Regions from separate parts of the Homo sapiens genome. Here regions 2 and 3 are each linked to region 1. Evidence: fine-mapped expression QTL. A gene starts in region 1. Each other region holds a variant in brackets. All regions are shown on one strand. Distances are from middle to middle.

Region 1 (8,348 bases):
TATAAGAAGAGGAGAATTTGCCTACAGACAGAGACACATAGAGAAGGCCGGGTGCAGTGGCTCACTCCTGTAATCCCAGCACTTTGGGAGGCTGAGGCGGGTGGATCACTTGAGGCCAGGAGTTCGAGACTAGCCTGAGCAGTATGGCGAACCCCCGTCTCTACTGAAAATACAAAAATTAGCTGGGCGTGGCGGTGCACACCCGTAATCCCAGCTACTCAGGAGGCTGAGGCAGGAGAATTGCTTGAACCTGGGAGGTGGAGGTTGCAGTGAGCTGAGATTGCGCCACTGCACTCGTCTGGGCGACAGAGCAAGACTCTATCTCAAATAAAAAAAAAAAGACATATAGAAGAAAGAATACCATGTGACGATGGAGGCAACAATTGAAATGATGCATCTATAAGCCAAGGAACACCAAGGATTTCTGGCAACCACCAGAAGCCAGGAAGAGGGAAGAAAGGATTCTTTCCCAGAGCCTTTGGAGATACCATGCTCTGCAGACACCTTAATTTCAGACTTCTAGCCTCCGCTGTGAGAGAATAAATTTCGGTGTTTTTGTTTTTTTGAGACAGGGCCTCACTGTGTCACCCAGGCTGAAATGCAGTGGCTCAATCACGGCTCCCTGCAGCAGCATCAACCTCCCTGGCTCAGGCTCAAGCCATCCTCCCACTTCAGCCTCCTGAGTAGCTGGGTCTACAGGCACGTGCCACCATGCCCAGCTAATTTTTTTTTTTTTTTTTTTTTACAGACGTGGGTCTTGCTGTGTTGTCCAGGCTGGTCTCAAACTCCTGGGCTCAAGCCATCCTTCTGCCTTGGCCTCCCAAAGTGCTGGGATAACAGGAGTGAGCCACCGTGCATGGCCGATTTCTGTTGTTTTTTGTTTTTTTGAGACACAGTTTTGCTTTTTCATCCAAGCTGGAGTGAGGTGGCGCAAACTTGGCTCACTGTAGCCTCTGCCCCCTGGGTTCAAGTGATTCTCCTGCCTCAGCCTCCCAAGTAGCTGAGACTACAGGCGCCCACCACCATGTCTTGCTAATTTTTGTATTTTTAGTAGAGATGGGGTTTCCCCATGTTGGCCAGGCTAGTCTCGAACTCCTGACCTCAGGTGACAGGCTGGCCTCGGTCTCCCAAAGTGCTAGGATTACAGGCGTGAGCCACCTCGGCTGACCTGATTTCTGTTGTTTTAAATGCTACCCAGGTTGTGGTTATTTGTATGGCAGCCTTAGGGAAACGAATACTGGAAGCCTGTGGAGAAGACACTGGAGCAGATACGTATTTCAAAACACCGGGCTTAACGTTAAAACTCTCCTCTAGGCCCCATCTAGGAATCTAAGTGGGATAAGCTAAGATGAGCTAGCTGATTCTTCACTGGTGGAAATTTGGACAATTGACACGCATTCATTCAAACTAAAAATTAAAGATAAAAAACCACATTTAATAATTTCACTACAGTGACAATTCTTGTAACATTTTGAGACTCTATCAGTTAGATCCCTACCTCTGTTCTATTCTTTTTGTGGTAGTGAAGAACTAATCTTTATAACTGTTTTTTTTTTTTTCAGACTCAGTTTTGCTCTTATTGCCCAGGTTGGAGGGCAATGGCGCGATCTTGGCCACTGCAACCACCGCCTCCTGGGTTCAAGTGGTTCTCCTGCCTTAGCCTCCTGAGTAGCTGGGATTATAGGCATGCACCACCATCCCCAGCTAATTTTTTGTATTTTTAGTAGAGATGAGTTTTCACCATGTTGGCCAGGCTGGTCTCAAACTCCCGACCTCAGGTAATCCACCCGCCTCAGCCTTCCAAAGTGCTGGGATTACAGGCGTGAGCCACCACACCTGGCTTTAATTGTTTTTTAGCCATTTTCACAAATGCTAGGGAATAGCTCGGTTTAGATACTCGGAACTGTGTCACTGGCCAAGCCTCATATGGAATTGCTCATGTCTTCTAGGGCTGTAGGTGTGGTCAACAGCATTTTAAATTTGATCTTATTGGACATATGCCTCAGTTTTACCATATCATCTGTTATATGGGGATAATAATAGTAACTGCCTCCTAATGTTGTTGTGAGGATTAAATGAGTTTGTATTTACCAAGCATGTAGAAAAGTGCCTGGCACATAGTAAGTATTAATCACTGCACTCCTCTCTCTCTTGCCATTTGGGAAGTTTCTTTCTCACTGAACCATGAGCTCTCCAAGGATAAGAAGCATGTCTGTTTCATTTTCTATCCCCAGCACCTAGTACCCCTCTCTGGCACACAGTAGGCCCTCAGCAAGCATCTGCTGCCTAAAAGGCACTATCAAGCAGGCAGTATGAAATTCCATTTCTGAGTCTTGAAGAAGGAAGTCAGGTGGAAAAACAGATAAGAGTCCTACACATAAACGTTTAAGCTTGACAACACTCAAGACCATCAAGGAAGACAGCATGGAGGGAAAATAAATAGAACACTGAGGAAAGATTGATGGCAGGAGATGGAAGCAAACAGAAAAGGAGTTCTGAAACAATATTCTTTCAAAGAAGCCGTGAAAAGAGTTCAAGGGAATTGAAGTAAGTCCACAGGAAAGGCTGTCTTAAAAGTGGAGTATGAAAAATTTGTGGTTAGCAAGCAGCTGACTGAGGTTAATTTTTTTTTAAGTCTCAGAGGAAGGAAATGATATTGTGTAACAGTTTTCTCTAACTTGGCAGGCTTTTAAATGTGGGTCCCGATCTGTCTTGCCAGAAGGGTTGAGAGCTAGGGAGCAGGGAGAAGGAGGGTATGGGTCTCTCCAAGACTCTGTGTCTTAAGAAGGTTGTATTGAAGTCAGGTTATATCTTCACTCACAATATGAGACAATAAATTCAAATAAAACGTCCATTTTTGTCCCCTTATTTTGTTTAGGCTGGTAAAGCAGGTTTGATGATGTTTTTGTCAGGTTGACAAAATTATCAGCAACAAGTTTTTATCTGGAATATCTCCCTCATTACACTTGAATTTCAACAGGGTTCCACCACCCAGGAAGACAGAATAACCGGTTTTCTGAGTTTTTCCTGATACAATTCTGGTTATCACAAACGACTTGAGATCCCTACTCTTCTTTAAAAGGGCAAGAAAAGGGAATCAATATCAATATTTGATAATGGCATTTAAAAAATAATAGACATCACTTTTGCGTTTAAAAAATGTTTTTCAATATTTAATTTACAAGTTGAGTACAAGCCATAAAAAATGTTTTTAAAATAAATTTGAGGAATTGAAAACTCCTAAGTGGTCAATTGAGCCCACATGAATCTACCAAACAAGACTGAAATGTACTTTCACAACATATGGTCTGATGAGGTTTTTCCTGTTAAACAGAGAAAAATAGACCCGGGGAAGTTGCTGGAAGGCATGAACCATGTACCATTTAAAGAGAGGTTTTCCATACTTATGCAAATGAGACCCCGTTAAAGACTCTACTACAGGATCTAAAGCTAGCCGCTCCCCAGTCTGGGGCTCAAATGTTCTCATCTGTAAAATAAGGGAAAAGAGAAAGGGTGGTATATGTGTCTGCGTATTAATTATTTGAGTGTGTGTGTGAATTCTTTGGATATGAAAATAAAGAGAGAAGACATTAATTATTTGGGTGCGTATGTGTGAATTAATTCTTTGGATATGAAAATAAAGAGAGGGCCGGGCGCGGTGGCTCACACCTGTAATCCCAGCACTTTGGGAGGCCGAGGCGGGTGGAGGCCAGGACCAGTCTGGGCAACATGGCGAAACCCCATCTCTACAAAAAATACAAAAATAGCCGGGTGGCGTGGTGCGTGCCTGTAATCTCAGCTACTAGGGAGGCTGAGGCAGGAGAATCCCCTGAACCCGGGAGGCGGAGGCTGCAGTGAGCCGAGAACGCGCCACTGCATTCCCGCCTGGGAAACAGACCATCTAAAAAAAAAAAAAAAAAAAAAAAAAAAAGGCCGGGCGTGGTGGCTCACGCTTGTAATCCCAACACTTTGGGAGGCCGAGGCGGGTGGATCACGAGGTCAGAATTCGAGACTCAGCCTGGCCAACATAGTGAAACCCCGTCTCTACTTAAAAAAAAAAAAAATACAAAAATTAGCCGGGCATGGTGGTGCGTGCCTGTAGTCCCAGCTACTTGGGAGGCTGAGGCAGGAGAATCGCTTGAACCCGGGAGGTGGAGGTTGCAGTGGGCCGAGATCACGCCACTGCACTCCTGCTTGAGCAACAGAATGAGACTTCAAAAAAAAAAAAAGAAAGAGAAAAGACAACCTACCCCAGTATAAGGGGTAAGAAAAAGGATTCAGGGAGGCTCAGGAACTTAAGGCCTCGAGCACCTGCACCTCCAGCCCCACCCGCTAACCCTCCCCAGCGTGGAGATACAGCACAGGGGCCAACATGGCGTCAGCACGCTGGGTCTCGCCTGCGACCCCCGTGACTCCGCACTGCTGCAGCCCGGGCGAGGCTGCGCCCCATTGGCCAACTGCAATGAGGTCATTGCGGGGGCGGGGGCCGGCGGCGGCGCAGGGGCGGGGCTTTACGGACGCAAGCACGTCGAAGCGCTGCTCCTGGAGCCGCGGAGGGTGCGGGTTTGGCTGCGGTGGTTTCTGTGGCGGTTGCTGTGGCGGAGTTTGGAGGTGAGTGGGGGCTGTAGGTTTAGCGCAACAGGGAGCGGCCCTCGATGGACGTAGGAAATCCTTCTAAGAGCCCCCTTGATTGTCAGAGGAATTAGCGGGGATCTGACGTCTTCGAGATAAAATGGGGGTTCGCCCCCTCCTTGGGCACCCCTCCTCTGCCCTGAGGAACCGGAGGCTCACTGCCCTTTGGAAGCCCCGCATCTCTTCCCTGCTTTAAGGGGTAGGCGGAGGAACCGGAGGTTATTGGATAGGCAGAAGAATTTAGGGGGCTTCTTAAAGGGTTTCTCAGTTTGGGGGTTTTCCTCTCCTTTTTTCCCATCTCAAGGTAGATGAGCCTGAGTCCAGAGAATTCCTGCTCATTGGGTAGACAGGAAATGAAGCAGGTGAATACCGTGGGAGGAGGCGAGGACCGGATGACAGGAGTGAGATTCTTCTAGGCAGGGCGCGGGGGCGCTGTAGTTGGACTCATCTTTTGCAGAATTGCTGTTTCTTCATATTTTGTTTTGTGATCGTCCAGAACTACTTTGGCCTAATTAGTTTTCTGTTAGCCTCCATTGCTATAGAGATATTCTTGGGAGACCTATAATCATTAAAGAGCAGGAGGACGGAGGCGACTCGTTGGAGGCTTATCATTATCCACAGCTCCTGAACTATGCTGACCAGGCCTAATTTTATGTGTTTAGAGGTTGTAGAATCTCTCTTTGTTTAAGGGTGGTGCCGGTAACAGCTGATTTGGATGATTCAGATGTACAGAATCTTAAAGTCAGCCTGCATATTCTCTTGAGAAGTCCTTGCTTATGTCTGAGCTTGTGTTACTGTCTTGAACATCACATGCACAAAGGTTTGTTCGTTCAGATTTCTCAAAATGTCTCCCAGCCTTCCAGAAGAGTAAATCTTCCTTTGATGTCAGACTCATCTATCAGTACTCAGTATAGATGCCCTTATGACACTAAAAATACTGTGCATTTTTCTGAGTTTGGATACTGGACAGGCTGTGCCTTACATTAGCTGATCGAGAATAAATAATTGCAGTTTCAGGACCACTGATAGCGCCAGTTGTCTCATACCCGGCAACAGTAAGACAGCACTAAAACGAAACCTTTATTGGCTCATGAGATTTGACAGATGGAAGAATGTAATTAATCTTGAAGGTAGGGTTGAGAAACAGAAAGCTGCAGAGGTGGAAGGCTTATTCTCTGTGGCTTGATAAAACTGCTTTGTCATTATCAGTGTGTTCCTGTCATGCTTGATTTGAAATTGAGCTTAATATGCAAACTGGTTGCTTTTTCCAGATGACGGTTATTTGTTTGAATTCCTAAGTGGGGAAATATTGTTTTCTGAGGAATCTGGAAGATTAAACCCTTTAGTGTAGCCATAGCTTTAGGATAGTGCCAGAACTTTGGGCTTTTAGAAATGCGCATTGTCAGTAGAAGGGAGAAGGATAGTTACAAGGCAGACATCTTTATGAGAGGGTATTGAAGGCCTCTTCTGTTTGTTTCCTGCACTAGCAAAAACAGATTGAGCAGTGTGAAACTCACTGCCTCAATATTGTGTCCTGGGTATTTAAAGAGTTGTTTGAGGTTCCCAGTTCCTGTCTTTAATCTGGATACATTCTTATCAGTTGAGTTGCCCAAAATAATTGTCATTTGATCCTGATGTTGACTGGAATGGAAGTGACTTTTCATCTGACACTCTGTGGGACAGAATTCAGGAACTGCCTTTGCAATTTCTCCTTTCCATCTTTCTAGACAGGGTGTCAAAAACAGTTGTTGACCTGTCCTCATGGGGTGTTAGAAATGTAAATGCAAGAGCCGTAGTGGGGTGTCATTTGCTCTTAGCCCTCGTGGTAATTTCCAAAGTTATGTCATTTTCTCTTTGCTTCAGGTTGGAGAGAAATCCAGGTACTCACTAGACTGGTACCTTCTGCCACCATGGGGGAGCTTTTCCGGAGTGAAGAAATGACACTGGCCCAGCTTTTTCTACAGTCAGAGGCTGCTTATTGTTGTGTCAGTGAATTAGGAGAACTTGGAAAGGTTCAGTTTCGTGACGTAAGTAGTTGTGGGGCTGCGACTTGATTACTGCTGAACTCTATTGCTATCGTGGTCAGATGCCTTATGATGAATGTTTTGTTTTTTATTTGCAAAAATAACATTATAGCACTGACTTCCTATTGGCAGAATGCACATTTTGAGTTGTCTTTCTAAAGGTGAGAATGTTTTGTGCCAATCTTTACATGCTTTTGCTAGCTCCCACTTTCAGAACAGTCCTAAGCATTCTCCAGGTAATTGTTTGGGATGCAGGGAGAGGTTACCAAACTAACCTGATCAAGGCTTTCACTTGCTAAATAGCAAGGTATTTAAAAAAATATATTGCAGTTTTTCCATATAGTAGGACATTTTAAAAAAAATAAAATTTGAGGTATCCAGCTACAGATATATAGTATATAAATAAGCATATACTGAATATTCATTATTTTGGAATATTATACTGGGCACTTGGAGAAGCTATCTAAAGAATATGGACAATCTAGCCTGGGTACAGTGGCTCACGCCTATAATCCTAACACTTTGGGAGGCTGAGGCGGGCGGATCGGGAGGTCAGGAGTTTGAGATCAGTCTGGCCAACATGGTGAAACCCCGACTCTACTAAAAATACAAAAAAAATTAGCATGGTGGCGCAGGCCTGTAATCCCAGCCACTCGGGAGGCCGAGGCAGGAGAATCGCCTGAACCTGGGAGGCGGAGGTTGCAGTGAGCCGAGATTGTGTGATTGCACGCAGCCTGGGCGACAGAGCAAGACTCCGTCTCAAACAACAACAACAACAACAAAAAACTTGTCATCCTTAATTTGCAGTTCTTCATCTGGTCCTATGTTGTCCCTCTGCTTAACATCTATTGGCTCTATTCAGCCTTCTTTTCTTTTACTTATGCTGTACTTCAGTCATACAAAAAAAAGAGATAGGGGCCAGGTGCAATGGCTCACACCTGAAATGCCAGTACTTTGAGAGGCCAAGGCAGGAGGATCGCTTGAGCCCAGGAGTTGGAGACCAGTCTGGGCAACATAGGGAGATCCCGTCTCTGCCAAAAAAAAAAAAAAAAAAAAAAATGCCGGATGTGGTGGCACATGGCTGTGGTCCCAGCTGCTTGGGAAGCTAAGGTGGGAGGATCGCTGAAGCCCAGGAGGTCGAGGCTGTAGTGAGCTGTGATTATGCCACTGCACTCCAGCCTGGGTGACAGAGCATGACACTGTCTCAAAACCAAAAAAAAAAAAAGAGGTGGGGGGAGTATTATAATGACCACCTATGTTTCTACTATCTGCTTAAGAGGGAAACATTCCGTGTATAATTGAAACCTCTGTTTCTCTTTGCTCCATGCCAGTCCTTTCTTCCACCCCAGAGGTAACCCGTACAGTGATTTGTTTTGCTTTTATTTCTCCTATGTGTGGTTTTTGTTGTTGTTGTTGTTGCTTTTCTTTTTGAGACAGAGTCCACTCTGTCGCCCAGGCTGGAGTGCAGTGGTGTGATCTCAGCTCATTGCAGCCTCCGCCTCCCAGGTTCAAGCAATTCTCCTGCCTCAGCCTCCTGAGTAGCTGGGACTAAAGGCATGCACCACCATGCCCAGCTAATTTTTGTATTTTTAGTAGAGACGGGGTTTCACCACATTGGCCAGGCTGGTCTCGAACTTCTGACCTCTGGTGATCCACCCGCCTCGGCCTCCCAAAGTGCTGGGATTACAGGCA
Region 2 (8,000 bases), 30 kb after region 1:
ACTTCCATTTCTTTTTTCTTTTCTTTTCTTTTTTTTTTTTTTTGAGACAGAGTCTTGCTCTGTCTCTCAGGCTAGAGTGCAGTGGCGCGATCTCGGCTCACTGCAACCTCTGCCTCACAGATTCAAGCAATTCTCCTGCCTCAGCCTCCTGAGTAGCTGTGATTACAGATGCCTGCCACCATACCTGGCTAATTTTTGTATTTTTAGTAGAGATGGGGTTTTGCCATGTTGGCCAGGCTGGTCTTGAACTCCTGACCTCAGATGATCTGCCTGCCTCGGCCTCCCAAAGTCCTGGGATTACAGGTATGAGCCACCGTGCCCAGCCTGTAACTTCCATTTTAACTCTCAGTGACCTCCATCATATATGACCCACCAACCTGACCTATTGCTGGCTCCTTTGAGATACACTTAACCTGTTTAAGCAGAGAGAGAGAGTTTTAGAACTGCTGGTGAGTGATAGGCTATATTAGTATATTCTGGGTTCTAAGGCTGTCTTAATCTCCTTCCAGACCTATGGGTAGATTTAAAGAGCATATGTGGTAGTCATTATAACTGACCAGAATTTGATTTTTTAAAAATCTAGCTGTAGGAACTGAAAGTTTAAAAAGGGATTGAATACCAAGGAATGGGATGAGGAAAGAGAACGGCAAATAGAACATTGCTTGCTAGTTTCTTTAGCATCCTTCTAGAAGAAGGGTTTTTTGTGTTTTGTTTGTTTGTTTTGTTTTGTTTTGTTTTGTTTTGTTTTAAAGACAGATCTCACTCTGTCACCCAGGCTGGAATGCAGTGGCACAATCTTGGCTCACTGCAGCCTTGACCGACTAGGCTCAAACAATCTGTCTCAGCCTCCCAAGTAGCTGGGACTACAGGTGCCTGCTGCCATGCCCAGCTAATTATTTTTTGGTATGTTTTTGTAGAGATAGGGTCTCACTATGTTGCCCAAACTGGTCTGGAACTCTTGACCTCAAACAATCCTCCTGCCTTGGCCTCCCAAAGTGCTGGGATTACAGGAGTGAGTAATAGTAATTGTGAAATAGTCCACAACCAGAAGGAAAGAAAGTAGCTATCTTCAAGTGATGTGTTTCCTAGCATGACATGGCTTTGCTTTTAAAAACAAAGCAAAACAAAACAAAGGAAGTCACCTTCCTCTGCCCAAGACAATTTTTCAGGGAGTAGTTACTGCTTTGTTCTGAACTAACTTGAAGAATTGTCTATGATGGAGACTTGTGCTTTGGGTTGCTTGCCTAATTTCTTCCAGTTGGAAGCAACAGGCTTAGCCACACCTGCTATTAAAAACTTAAATATGGGCTGGACATGTTGGCTCATGCCTGTAATCCCAACACTTTGGGAGGCCGAGGTGGGTGGATCACGATGTCAGGAGTTCGAGACCAGCCTGACCAACATGGTGAAACCCCGTCTCTACTAAAAATATAAAAATTAGCCGTGCATGGTGGCGCGCGCCTGTAATCCCAGCTACTCAGGAGGCTGAGGCGGGAGAATCGTTTGAACCCGGGAGGTGGAGGTTGTGGTGAGCTGAGACCACGCCACTGCACTCCAGCCTGGGCCACAGAGCGAGACTCCATCTCAAAAAAAAAAAATTAAATATTTGGTATTAAGCCAGTGGAATGTAAAATGTTCCTGTACCTTCCTCCCACCTTAGTCTTGGCACTGTAATTCCTCTGAGGGAAATCTGTACTGATTTCAAAAGGATCAACACTGAACCATTTTTTCCTCTGATGAGAAGCCTGACATAAAGGTAACACCTTAGCTGCCCTCATGATGGCAGTGGTATGTGGCAGTCCAAGCCCCCTGTAAAGATCACAGGTGCTCCTGATCCCATGGCGTCTCCTGGCCCATGTTCCCAGTGTAGGCTGGTGGTGGTATTCAGCACTGCCTCTTTCCACCCTCTCCTGATGCTGGCCCATGTGCAAAGGATTCTGTGTGGATTTGTTAATTTGTCAGCTCCTGGGCTTGTGATGCCTACTGAGTTACATTCCCCACATAGAAAGTCGTTGCTCTTTAATAAGCCAAGTTAAAGGCAGTGACCTACATTTGTTGTGCCTTGGATTGGTGGTAAGATTGAACATATATAGAAAAGCTAAACTATTTTCTCAGGTTTCTTTTTAGGTTGAAGCTAAATAAAAGTGAATGTTAGTAACTAGAACTCTAATTTCTTGTAATTTGGAAAAAAGAAACCATTCTAGCCAGAGGAAGAAAAAGACAATTCCCTGGCAACTCTTTTCAGAAAGCTATGCCTCTTTGCCATTCATACCCTGAGATCTAAAACTGGTGTTAAAAGGATCCCTCGCTTGTTCCTTTTCTCCCCAAAGGTTCTGAATCAAACGGAGGATCACCGCCAGAGGGTTCTGCAGGCAGCTGCTAAGAACATCCGTGTCTGGTTCATCAAAGTGCGGAAGATGAAGGCCATCTATCACACCCTGAACCTGTGCAACATAGATGTGACTCAGAAATGCTTGATTGCAGAGGTCTGGTGCCCTGTCACCGACCTTGACTCCATCCAGTTTGCACTCAGAAGGGGCACGGTGAGTCCCCAAAGCTAACAATGCAGCTCGTGGCCCGGAAGAGAGGTTCCCATCAATAGTAACATTAATGTCATTTTTGGCCGGGCGCGGTGGCTCATGCCTGTAATCCCAGAACTTTGGGAGGCCGAGGCGGGCAGATCATGAGGTCAAGAGATCGAGACCATCCTGGCTAACACGGTGAAACCCCGTCTCTACTAAAAAATACAAAAAATTAGCCGGGCGTGTTGGCAGGCGCCTGTAGTCCCAGCTACTCTGGAGACTGAGGCAGAAGAATCAAGTGAACCTGGGAGGCGGAGCTTGCAGTGAGCTGAGATTGCGCCACTGCATTCCAGCCTGGGCAACAGAGCGAGACTCTGTCTCAAAAAAAAAAAATAATAATAAAAAATAAATAAATAGTAACATTAATGTCATTTTTATGGCATTTCACCTTCAGAGTTCTTCAATATATTTATTTGTCTTTTAACTTGACAGCACATTTCATACATAGCCTGGCATATAATATGTATATCATAGCGTAGCATAGCATATCTTTATTTTGCATATGTGGAGACTGCAGTTCAGAGAGCTGAAATAATTTGGTCATATGCCCATGATTCTTCAGGGTTGTTCATGGCCAGGGCATCAGTTTCCTGATGCCCTCTCTGTATATGACTGTTTCTGTTTAGTAGTTAATTAGAACAACTACTCTGTCCACAGAAGTGCTGTAAGTGCCTGGAGGAGTACAGAGATGTATAAAACATGCCCTCGAGTATCTTACAGTTTATTAGGAGAGTTCCAACTATGGAGTTGGAAAAAGCTTTAAGCAGGTGGCATTTGATCAGGTCTTTGAAGAATGATAAGTTGTTGGTAAGACTGCTGAATGAAGAGAAGAAAACAAAGGCAGGAAGTATGGTTAGACCATGTATGTTTGGACAAGAACAGGATTTACAGTGGGTTAGCTGAAGAGAAGTACCTGTCTGCATCAGGTAGTTTGGAACTTAATTGTGAAAGGTTCTTAAATAATAGCTTAGAAGATTTAAATTTTATTCCAGAGGAAGTTGAGAGACATTGGAAGTTCTTTAGGGGTAAAGGAACATGATCAAAGCAGTTTGGGTGGTTTTTTACATTTTTAATTTTGTGTTTGAGACAAGATCTTGCTCTGTTACCCAGGCTGGAGTGCAGTGGTGCCATCTCAGCTCACTTCAGCTTCCAACTCCTGGGCTTAAGCAATCCTCCCACTTCAGACTCCCGGTAGCTGGGACTACAGGTGCCCACCATCATGCGTGGCTAATTTTTTGTAGAGACAGGGTTTTGCCATGTTGCCCAGGCTGATCTCAAATTCCTGGGCTCGAGTGATCTGCCTTCCTTGGCCTTCCAAAGTGTTGGGGCCAGGCGTGGTGACTCACTCTTGTAATCCAGCACTTTGGGAGGTTGAGGCGGGTCATCACTTGAGGTCAGGAGTTTGAGACCAGCCTGGCCAACATGACAAAACCCCGTCTCTACTAAAAATACAAAAAAGTTAGCCAGGTATGGTGGTGGGTGCCTGTGATCCCAGCTACTCAGGAGGCTGAGGCAGGAGAACCACTTGAACCCAGGAGGCAGAGGTTGCAGTGAGCTGAGATCATGCCACTGCACTCCAGCCTGGACAGCAGAGTGAGACTCTGTCTCAAAAAAAAAAAAAAAGTGGGTCACCACGCCTGGTGGATCAAAGCAGTTTTTTTGTTTTTTGGTTTTTTTTTTTTTGAGATGGAGTTTTGCTCTTGTTGCCCAGGCTGGAGTGCAGTGGCATGATCTCGGCTCACTGCAACCTCCACCCTCCACCTCCCTGCTTCAAGTGATTCTCCTGCCTCAGCCTCCTGAGTAGCTGGGATTACAGGTGTGCGCCACCACACCCAGCTAATTTTTTGTATTTTTAGTGGAGACGGGGTTTCATCACGTTGACCAAGCTGGTGTCGAACTCCTGACCTCAGGTGATCCACCCGCCTCAGCCTCCCAAAGTGCAGGGATTACAGGCATGAGCCACTTCTCCTGGCTCAAAGCAGTTTTAAAAGAGTAATCTGCTGATAGTATCTAGGTTGGATTGAGGAGTGAAGAGATTCTGTAGGTAGGGGTTCAGTTAGGAGGTTATTGTAGACATAGAGTAGTA[AATG/A]ATAAGGATCCCCAGGTAGGACTTGACAATGGGAAAAAAAATGATGAATTGTGAGATGTTCTGCAGGAAAAATCAATAGGGCTACCTGGTTCCTAGCAAGGTGCAGGAGAAATACAAGGAGAAAGATTTAAACATCTTTTTGAGGCATCAAAGCTGACTGGCCAGGAGAATTAGGGTTCCAATGAGGGAAGTAAATGTTCAGCCAGAGAAGCTTATTGATTGGGGAGAGATGGTAAGTTCAGTTCCGGGCACATTGAGGTCTATGTGGAAATGTCAAGCAGACAAGGGAACAAAGCTAAGGAAATGGGAGTCATGAGAATGGAAGGGAATGAGACCTCCAAGAGGGAGGTCATAGAGAGAAAAAAAAGGTTGGGGTCTTGCAATGCTATGAGATAGGCAGAGCAGAAATAACCAGCAAAGATAGAAAAGCAATGGTCAGCGAGCAGGAGGAGAACTCCTAAGGAAGAAGGATTTTCACCAAAGATCTCCAATGTCAGGGGCGTGCATGGGGGAGAGAAGCTCTTTGGTCAGGAGCCAGTCACTTTGCCTAAGCATGCTCAGCCAGACTGCAAGGGATCAGGAAGTTAAGAGAAGGTAGTGAAGAAGGAGAGCCAGAGAACATACTTTGCTTTCTCCATGAAAGGGGGAGAACAACTTTCATAAAAAGGCAGATATGGAGGCAGTTCCACATTTTCTTTGGTGACATATTTTAAAGTTAAATTTTTTTCACATTAAGGATGTATTTCAGAGGATCTAATAGAAATCTTCCATTATAAATGTTATACCTTTTCCCAGTTTTCCCAAAAGCTGGGAAAGATAATCTAGTTTTATTTTTAGGTTTATTAGTTTTATTGAGATATAATTTACATGAAAGAAAATACATACATTTTATGTGTACCATTTGATGAGTTTCAAGAAATGTACACCTGTGTAACCACTACCACAATTAGGAGGATAACCTAAGTTTGATAAATGTGCTAATGTTTTTCAGGAACACAGTGGTTCCACTGTACCTTCCATTTTGAACAGGATGCAGACAAACCAGACTCCCCCAACCTATAACAAAACCAACAAGTTTACCTATGGCTTTCAGAACATAGTAGATGCTTATGGAATTGGAACTTACCGAGAGATAAATCCAGGTAAAAAAAAGCTTGTTATCTTTTTCCTCTAGAGTTTTTTTTGTTTGTTTGGTTGGTTTGGTTTGTTTTGAGACAGAGTCTCCCTCTGTCACCCAGGCTGGAGTGCAGCAGCACGACTGTAGTTCACTGCAGCCTCAAACTCCTGGCCTCAAGAGATCCTCCCAACTCAGTCTCCTGTATAGCTAGGACCACAGGCGCACAGCACCACACCTGGCTAATTTTTTATTTTATGATTTTTTTTTGACTGGGTCTCATTCTGTTGCCTAGGCTGTAGTGCAATGGTGAAATCACGGCTTACAGCAGCCTCAACCTCGTGGGCTCAAGTGATTCTCCCGCCTGAACCTCTGGAGTAGCTGGGACTACAGGCATGTGTCACCATGCCTGGCTAATTTTTAAAATTTTTTTAGAGATGGGTTTTGCTATGTTGCCCAGGCTGATAATTTTTAATTTTTTTTAGAGACGGGGTCTTGTTATGTTGCCCAAGCTAGTCTTGGACTCCTGGGCTCAAGGAAGCCTCCTGCTTCAGCCTCCCAAAGTGCTGGGATTACAGGTGTGACCCACTATGCCTGGCCTTTTTGTTCATTGTTTCTTCTAATGCCTCACTTTAAATGCTGTTGAATAACTGAATTAAAATTAAAGATGTTAATCCTAGCACTGTTTTTTTAATTTAATTTTATTTTTAATTTTTTTTGAGACGGAGTCTCGCTGTGTCACCCATGCTGGAGTGCAGTGGCGTGATCTTGGCTCACCGCAAGCTCTGCCTCCCAGGTTCACGCCATTCTTCTGCCTCAGCCTCCCGAATAGCTGGGACTACAGGCACCCGCCACCATGCCCGGCTAATTTTTTTTTTATTTTTTTTAGGTGAGACAGAGATTTACTCTCGTTGCCCAGGCTGGAGTGCAATGGCACGATCTCAGCTCACCACATCCTCTGCCTCCCAGGTTCAAGCGATTCTCCTGCCTCAGCCTCCCGAGTAGCTGGGATTATAGGCATGTGCCATCACGCCCGGCTAATTTTGTATTTTTAGTCGAGACGGGGTTTCACCATGTTGCCCAGGCTGATCTCTAACTCCTGACTTCAGGTGATCTGCCTGCCTCTGCCTCCCCAAGTGCTGGGATTACAGACGTGAGCCACTGCGCCCGGCCATTTTTTTGTATTTTTAGTAGAGACAGGGTTTCACTGTGTTAGCCAGGATGGTCTCGATCTCCTGACCTCATGATCCACCCGCCTTGGCCTCCCAAAGTGCTGGGATTACAAAGTGCTGGGTGGCGTGAGCCACTGCGCCCAGCCAATCCTAGCACTTTTAGAGGCCGAGGTAGGAGGATTGCTTAAGCCCAGGATTTCAAGATCAGCCTGGGCAACATAGTGAGACCCCATCTCTATTAAAAAATAAATAAACATGTTGACACCTCAGATCTTGTGTACTCCCTGTGAAGAGGTGCTCATTCTGGCAGGGCATGGTGGCTCACGCCTGTAATCCCAGCACTTTGGGAGGCTGAGGCATGTGGATCACATGAGGTCAGGAGTTTGAGACCAGCCTGGCCAACATGGTGAAACCCTGCCTCTACTAAAAATACAAAAATTAGCCGGATTTGGTGGCATGCACCTGTAGTCCCAGCTACTCGGGAGGCTGAGGCCTGAGAATCACTTGAACCCAGGAGGCAAAGGTTGCAGTGAACCGACATCATGCCACTGCACTCCAGCTTGGGCAACAACAAAAAGATGCCCATTTAATGTAAGGGGCAGGTTTACTGTCAGGTAGCGTTCCTTTAAGAGTTCATCGGCTGGGCCAGGTGTGGTGGCTCACGCCTGTAATCCCAGCACTTTGGGAGGCCGAGGCAGGTGGATCACCTGAGGTCAGGAGTTCGAGACCAGCCTGACCAACATGGAGAAACCCCGTCTCTACTAAAAATACAAAATCAGCCAGGCATGGTGGCTCTTGCCTGTAATCTCAGCGACTCGGGAGGCTGAGGCAGGAGAATCACTTGAACCGGGGAGACGGAGGTTGCCGTGAGCCGATATTGCATTATTGCACTCCAGCCTGGGCAAAAAGAGTGAAACTCTGTCTCAAAAAAAAAAAAAAAAAAAAGTTCATCGGCTGGGCGTGGTGGTTCATGCCTGTAATCCCAGCACTTTGTGGGGACAAGGTGGAAGGATCACTTAAGGTCAGGAGTTCGAGACCAGCCT
Region 3 (8,000 bases), 43 kb after region 1:
GGTGGCGAGCACCTGTAATTCCAGCTACTCGGGAAGTTGAGGCAGAGAATTGCTTGAACCCAGGAGGCAGAGGTTGTAGCGAGCCGAGATCATGCCACTGCACTCCAGCCTGGGCGACAGAGTAAGACTCCATCTAAAAGAAAAAAAAAAAAAAGAAATCATTGTTAATGCATTTACGTGTGATGACAATATTGTGGTCATGTTTTAAAAATAAGTCCTGGCCGGGCGCGGTGGCTCACGCCTGTAATCCCAGCAATTTGGGAGGCCAAGGCGGGCGGATCATGAGGTCAAGAGATCGAGACCTTCCTGGCTAACATGGTGAAAACCCCACCTTGCAATAGGCCGAGATTTCACCACTGCACTCCAGCCTGGGTGACAGAGCGAGAGTTCATCTCAAAAAAAAAAGAAAAAAAAAAAAAGCCTTACTGGCCGGGCGCAGTGACTCAAGCCTGTAATCCAAGCAGTTTGGGAGGCCGAGGCAAGCCTCAGGCCAGACCTGAGGTCAGGAGTTTGAGACCAGCCTGGCCAACATGGTGAAACCCCATCTCTACTAAAAATACAAAATTAGCTGGGCATCGTGGCCTGTGCCTGTAATCCCAGCTACCTGGGAGGCTGAGGCAAGGCAGGAGGTGGAAGTTGCAGTCAGCGAGATCATGAACACTGCACTCCATCCTGGGCAAAAAGAGCGAAATTCCATCTCAATAAATAAATAAATAAATAAATAAGTCTTTTCCTTTTAGACATCCACACTGAAATATTTACAGGTAAAATGACATGATATCTGGACTTTTTAGTAATGTGGAGATGAGTGAGTGGCAGTAATCTTTTTTCATGACTATAAGGTGATGTTAATTTTTGAAGCATTCTCCTCAAAAGCAAGATTAAAAAAAAAAATTTTGTCGAAGCAGAGTGATAGGTGCCTGGGAGTTTGTTGTACCATCCTGTCTGCTTAAGTATCTGTTTAGAATTTTCCATAATAAATAATATTGATTAATAAATAAAAATTGTCGACCGGGCGCGGTGGCTCACGCCTGTAATCCCAGCACTTTGGGAGGCTGAGGCGGGCGAATCACGAGGTCATGAATCGAGACCATCCTGGCTAACACGGTGAAACCCTGTCTCTACTAAAAATACAAAAAAATAGCTGGGCGTGGTGGCAGGCACCTGTAGTCCCAGCTACTTGGGAGGCTGAGGCAGGAGAATGGCGTGAACCCGGAAGGCAGAGCTTGCAGTGAGCTGAGATCACGCCACTGCACTCCAGCCTGGGTGACAGAGCGAGACTCGTCTCTAAATAAATAAATAAATAAAAATTGTTTTTTAAACAGAGGAATATTTTTCCCTTTGAGAATTCTTTATAATACCTATTTGTTTTCTCGGGTTATGACAGATTTGGAACATTGCTACCAATAAACTGACGTTCTTGAACTCCTTTAAGATGAAGATGTCTGTTATCCTTGGTATCATCCATATGCTGTTTGGAGTCAGCCTGAGTCTGTTCAACCATATGTGAGTTGTTCCATTTCTGTCATAAGAATGTGCATAGTTTAGAGAATGCTTTTGTGTAAAGAAATCATGACATCTTTGGGGAGGGATTAATAACTCAGAACCTCATTCTACATTATAGAAGTGCTTTTCTAAAAATTTAATGGTGTGGCCAGGCGCGGTGGATCATGCCTGTAATCCCAGTACTTTGGGAGGCCAAGGCCGGTGGATCACCTGAGGTCAGGAGTTCGAAACCAGCCTGGCCAACACGATGAAACCCCGTCTCTACTAAAAATACAAAAATCAGCCAGGTGTAGTGGCACGCGCCTATATTCCCAGCTATTCGGGAGGCTGAGGCAGGAGAATTGCTTGAACCTGGGAGGCAGAGGTCGCAGTGAGACAAGATGGCACCACTGCACTCCAGCCTGAGCGACAGAGTGAGACTCTGCCTCAAAAAAAATAAATAAATAAATAAATTTCATGGTCTGGCCGGGTGCAGTGGCTTACACTTGTAATCCAGCACTTTGGGAAGATGAGGCGGGCAGATCACTTGAGGTCAGGAGTTCAAGACCAGCCTGGCCCACATGGTGAAACTCCGTCTCTACTAAAAATACAAAAAATTAGCCGGGTGTGGTGGCGTGCACCTGTAATCCCAGCTACTCTGGTGGCTGAGGCAGGAGAATTGCTTGAACCCAGGAGGCAGAGGTTGCAGTAAACCAAGATAACACCACTGCACTCCAGTCGGGGTGACAGAGCAAGACTCCATCTCAAAAAAAAAAAAAATGTTGATGGTCTTAAATTAGACTTAATATTAGTCCTTTAACAATTTACTGTTCCAGTAAAGATCCTTGAAAAAAACTTGAGCAATTTTCATCAAAATAAGTGAGGTCTCTTTTTTTCCTTGATGTGCAACTCACATAAAATTATTAGCTGTGGACTGGGTGTGGGGGCTCACACCTGTAATGCCAGCACTTTGGGAGGCCAAGGCAGGCGGATCACTTGAGCCCAAGAGTTCAAGACAAGCCTGGGTAACACGGCAAAAGACCCCATCTCTACAAAAAAAAAAAAAAAAAAAAGTTATGAACTGTGGTCTCAAAATGTACTAGATTTTTCCATTCTCTTTCTCATGGAGAGAATGGTGGGGATGGTATTGGAGCCGTTCAAGGTTCAAAAGTTTAAGGCCTGGCACAATGGCTCACATCTGTCATCCTGCACTTTGGGAGGCCAAGGCGGGCAGATCACCTGATGTCAGGAGTTCAAGACCAGTCTGGGCAACATGGCAAAACCCCATCTCTACAAAAAAATGTAAAAATTAGCTGGGTGTGGTGGCGCATGCCTGTAGTCCCAGCTACTCGAGAGGCTGAGGTAAGAGGATTGCCTAAGCCCAGGGAGGTTAAGACTGCGGTGAGCCAATATTGCACCACTGTACTCCAGGCTGGGTAGCAGAGTGAGACCCTGTCTCAAAAAAGAAAAAGCAACAGCAAAACAAAACCAAGGTTCAAAAGTTTGACCGTGATAGTTAATCCTGCATTGTCTCTGTTGTCTCCAGCTTCTGGTTGCTGCTGCTTAAAGTGATAAAGACAGAATTGAGGGGGTATTAAGTAGAAAAATCTAGTGAATACTCCATTCAGTGTAGGAGTGGCCCTAGGCCCATTTACCCTTAACATTTTTTTCTCTCTCCTTTTTAGCTATTTCAAGAAGCCCCTGAATATCTACTTTGGATTTATTCCTGAAATAATCTTCATGACCTCTTTGTTTGGCTATTTGGTTATCCTTATTTTTTACAAGTGGACGGCCTATGATGCTCATACCTCTGAGAATGCACCAAGCCTTCTGATCCATTTCATAAACATGTTCCTCTTTTCCTACCCAGAGTCTGGTTATTCAATGTTGTATTCTGGACAGGTACGTCAGCCCAGAGGCAGACTGTCTGAGATGATTATACTTGATCAGGAAGCCAGATGTTTCTCTGACCCTAAAAAATTTATAACTGCCCTTCTATGGGACAATTCTAGGGCTTTGCCACAAAATGTGATAATTATTTTGAGAAATTGGATAGTGTTATTCATAGATTAGTAAGAAAGTACTGTTGGGGGAAATTTGTGCCATATTTGGAAACTGCGTATGTGATCGGTAGACTTTTATATGATGTACCTTGTCCTTCTTCTTACTCTGCAGAAAGGAATTCAGTGTTTCCTGGTAGTGGTTGCACTACTGTGTGTACCTTGGATGCTGCTGTTTAAACCATTGGTCCTTCGCCGTCAGTATTTGAGGAGAAAGCATTTGGTAGGTGTATTTCTATTGCTAAAAGTTACTAGACTTTTGTTTTGTTCAAGATCAAGGCAATTCCCCAGTGGATATAATTAATTGTGCACAAATCTATATATTCTTTTTCTTTTTCTTTTTCTTTTTTTGAGACGGAGTCTCGCTCTGTCCCCCAGGCTGGGGTGCAGTGGTACGATCTTGGCTCACTGCAACCTCCACCTCCCAGGTTCAAGCAATTCTTTTGCCTCAGCCTCCTGTGTCACTGGGATTATAGGTGTACGCCACCACACCTGGCTAATTCTTGTATTTTTAGTAGAGACGGGGTTTCACCATGTTAGCCAGGCTGGTTTCGAACTCCTAACCTCATGATCCGTCCACCTTGGCCTCCCAAAGTGCTGGGATTACAAGCGTGAGCCACCATGCCCGGCCACAAATCTGTATACTATTAAAACGCATTTGTGGCCGGGCGCAGTGCCTCACTGCTGTAATCCCAGCACTTTAGCACTTTGGGAGGCCGAGGTGGGTGGATCACTTGAGGTCAGGAGTTTGAGACCAGCCTGGCCAACATGGTGAAACCCCATCTTTACTAAAAATACAAAAATTAGCCAAGCGTGTTGGCGCGTGCCTGTAGTCCCAGCTACTTGGGAGGCTGAGGTGGAAGGATCGCTTGAATCTGAGAGGCGGAGGTTGCAGTCAGCCAAGATTGTGCCACTGTACTCCAGCATGGGGACAGAGTGAGACTCTGTCTCAAAAACAAAAAACCAAACAAACAAAACGCATTTGTGTTATGTCCCAGCACGAGCACTGGGCCTGCCAAGTCAGAGAAACATGTCTGCTGCTCAAGATATCTGGATTCAGCTTTGAGTAGCTAGAGGAGAGAAAAGTCACAAATTTTTACCTTTCCTGGTCATGCTTTTGCTCACGCTGCGCTCAGGAAAATGTAGGCCTATGCCTGTCTAGATGTAGCATCAGCCAAAGCCAAGCAAAGCTGCAAGAGCTGCAGATGGGTGAACTCACTCATGCGGTTTGCCTGGGCAACCACAGGACTGACATTGAGACATTTTCCTTTCA[A/G]ATGAGACTGTGATAACTTTCACTGACCAAAACATCTGGGAAAAAGGTTTGGTTTAAAGCACGTTGATTTTTTTTCTTTTTAAAAAGCAGCATATGTATATACGTTTACTTAATGTCTGTGTGTATATGAATTCTGCGCGCGCACACACACACACACACACAGAGTTAAATTTGCGAGATGTTCAGTATCATGCATAATTTCTGGGTATCCAATAGCACTTACTTTACACTGCCTGGGAAAACCCAAACGATCTTGTTGCATGACTCTTAAACGGCTGTTAGATGATGACTCCCGTGGAGAGCAGCTGAGTTACAAGACCCTCCTTCTCCCTTTTCTGACCATCTTCATCCTTCCATGTACCCTCCATTTGTCTCCCCACTTCACTCCCTCCCTCTTTTGTTTTCTTTCCCCTTCTTCTTTTCTTCCATTCACTATCAGGAAGGGCAACCTGTGGAGGCCCCAGTCAGCCCAAACCCGAGCCAACAGGGACTAGAGGCAGCAGCGGCTGCAACAGTGAGTGAATTAAAACCAACAAACCATCACATTTCATTTAAAGAGGTGGCAAACAGTGCAGCAGAATTCTTTTTAATTAAATTGAGAGCATGGGACATGTGTACTTTTGGGAAATATGTCCTTGTTACTCACTGAGATGATGACAGAAGTTCCACCTCTTAAGAATAGATTCTGGCATCATCTTTAGCATTGGTCTACTAAGTTTCTATTCAAAAATGTAAGTACAGGCATGTCCATGGCAACAAAGTGGCTTGTTGTACCCTCACTGAGTCCCATCATCTTAATCCAAGATGACAGCTCTTGGACTCACCCACTTTCATGTCTGTATTTTGTGACCATGTATTGGATGATTTTTCAGCATGGAAGCGAGAATATCTCTGTGATTCTTGAATTGATTTCCCTGCACTTTAGAGTTCTACTTTAGAGTGATGCTTGGACATTTGATCTTTTTTAGTAGTAACTTACCTTCTTTTTGAAAGTGAAAGTTTATACATGTTTAGTTTTTTGTGAGAAACTCAGAAGACCTCACATGTCCTCAGCTGTTCCAGTGAGACCTCTGCTCTCCGATGTGTCGTGTGTACTGTCATCTGGTGTCATAACCAAAGTGATCTGTCTTGATCCTTCCCTCTTCTGATACTAATTCAAGATTCAGTAACAGCACTTTGAATATTTGTCCTTAAAAACATCTTTTAAACAAAATCTTACAATGCACAAATATATTAGCCTAATATATTCTAAGTTATGAATGAATCTATAAGATTGTAAAAGTCTCACCAGTAGTGATTACGCATTACTTCTATGTGCTCGAAGCATATACTTCTTTAAATAAAATGAAAGATTTAGATGGATAACCATTTCCTTCATTAAGTGTTTCTGATGATTTTAAACTTGGAAAATTTCTTATGGTCATCCTTCTGGAACTAGTCTAAGTCATCCTTCTGGAACTAGTCTAAAAGGGCTGACATTTTGAGTCAGAAAAAATTTTAATCTTGCTGCTTAAAATACATTTTCAAGTAGGGACTTCCCTGTGAGACATTTAACAAACCTTTAGAACACATACTACCTATTGTCAATGTCCTTAACACATACTCTTTTTTCTGCTAGTCTTAGCATATATAAGATGTGCTTCTGACAAGATCTTAATGCATTTAAGTCTTGCGACTTCTTCTGTGATAAATTCTAAGTTAAAAGTTCCCCGTTTGGAAACCTGCACATTCATAGGGTCTTCTTACCCCACTGGTTCTTTAGCCAAACATCTGTTCCTGGAGAGCAGCCTGAAGGCATCAGGATGATCAGTCTACAAGAAAGTCTCTGGATTTTTGACCCCAGAGGGCTGAGGATATGAACAGTGATCTGGTTTTGTTCTGTTCTTTGTCCCCTTGGTTGTCTGTGAGTGATATATCACAGTTTAATTTTTCTTTTCTTTTTTCTGCTGACATGTGTCTCTCATCCCCCTTCCTGTAACTCTCATTCCTGTGTTCTGAAGAGATCATTATTAGTGTCTGGCTGGGAGATTTAACCTGTCTGCTCCTCAGTTTATCTGCTAGTTGGAGAAAGCTTCAGAAATGGCCTTCTACTTTGGGAGCCTTGAACCTTGAAGCCTTCCTCCTATATCTTATAACCCAGCCGAGGTTATGCAGGAGTCCCCTCCTGTGCCCTTCGTTGCATTTTCAGTCCACCTTCTGAGGGTTGCCAGGTGGAATATGTGCATGACCTGGAGGTGTCCAGGCTCTGGTGGCCCACAAGTCTGACTGCACATCACAGTCACCTGGTAGACTTTGAATTTGTTTCTTAGGGTATTAAAACAAATAAGTGGAAGAAGAAATAAAAGTGGCCCATAATTTCATGGTCCTGACAATCCCCTACTGACATTAAAAAAATAAAGCAATAGGTGCACTTGGCTAGAGAATGCATATAGTGCTAACTAAGAAGAAAACCACCTGCCCCCACTACAGTCCTCCTCTTCAGGGGGCATTGTTAACAGGTGGGGGCCTTGCCTCTGACAGATATCTGCCTGTCTTCTATTGATAGGTGTGTGTGTGCTCTATGCATCTAGAAAAAGACACATGAGGAATTGTGTTTTAAACTGTGGCACTGTTCTGCCTCTCGATCTATTACGTTTTTTAAAAGTTAGTGTATCTTGAAGATTGTTTCATAGTGATAATCACTTTTTTTTTTTTTTTTCTGAGATGAAGTCTTGATCTGTCACCCAGCTGTAGTGCAGTGGCACGATCTCAGCTCACTACAACCTCCACCTCCCAGGTTCAAGCAATTCTCCTGCCTCAGCCTCATGAGTAGCTAGGATTATGGGCATGCACCACTACGCCTGGCTAATTTTTGTTTTGTTTTGTTTTTGAGATAGAGTCTTGCCCTGTCGCCCAGGCTAGAGTGCAGTGGCACGATCTTGGCTCACTACAACCTCCGCCTCCCCAGTTCAAGCAATTCTCCTGCCTCAGCTTCCTGAGTAGCTGGGATTACAGGCACCCACCACCTCCCCCGGCTAATTTTTGTATTTTTAGTAGAGACAGGGTCTCACCATGTTGGCCAGGCTGGTCTTGAACTCCTGACCTCGTGATCCACCTGCCTCAGGCTCCCAAAGTGCTGGGATTACAGGTGTGAGCCACTGTGCCTGGACTAATTTTTGGATTTTTAGGAGAGACGGGGTTTC

Evidence for each region. PIP is the estimated chance that this variant, and not a neighbour inherited with it, causes the effect.
Region 2: its variant is fine-mapped to the expression of ATP6V0A1 in whole blood (TOPMed, PIP above 0.99).
Region 3: its variant is fine-mapped to the expression of ATP6V0A1 in whole blood (INTERVAL, PIP above 0.99).

Annotation. Positions count from the first base shown.
Region 1 is chr17:42,454,353-42,462,700 of GRCh38, forward strand. ATP6V0A1 (ATPase H+ transporting V0 subunit a1) reads left to right here and starts at 4,526. Exons shown (of 22, transcript NM_001130021.3): 1 at 4,526-4,611; 2 at 6,496-6,659. The coding sequence starts at 6,543. RefSeq lists an enhancer at 4,146-4,235 and a silencer at 4,386-4,595.
Region 2 is chr17:42,484,825-42,492,824 of GRCh38, forward strand. It overlaps ATP6V0A1 (ATPase H+ transporting V0 subunit a1), which reads left to right. Exons shown (of 22, transcript NM_001130021.3): 10 at 2,331-2,543; 11 at 5,663-5,813. Among named protein-coding and RNA genes, the nearest start is that of MIR548AT, 5.9 kb to the right of the region's middle. The variant AATG/A (reference allele first, on the strand shown) is at 4,669.
Region 3 is chr17:42,497,537-42,505,536 of GRCh38, forward strand. ATP6V0A1 (ATPase H+ transporting V0 subunit a1) reads left to right here. Exons shown (of 22, transcript NM_001130021.3): 15 at 1,388-1,506; 16 at 3,171-3,387; 17 at 3,661-3,768. Among named protein-coding and RNA genes, the nearest start is that of MIR548AT, 6.8 kb to the left of the region's middle. The variant A/G (reference allele first, on the strand shown) is at 4,819.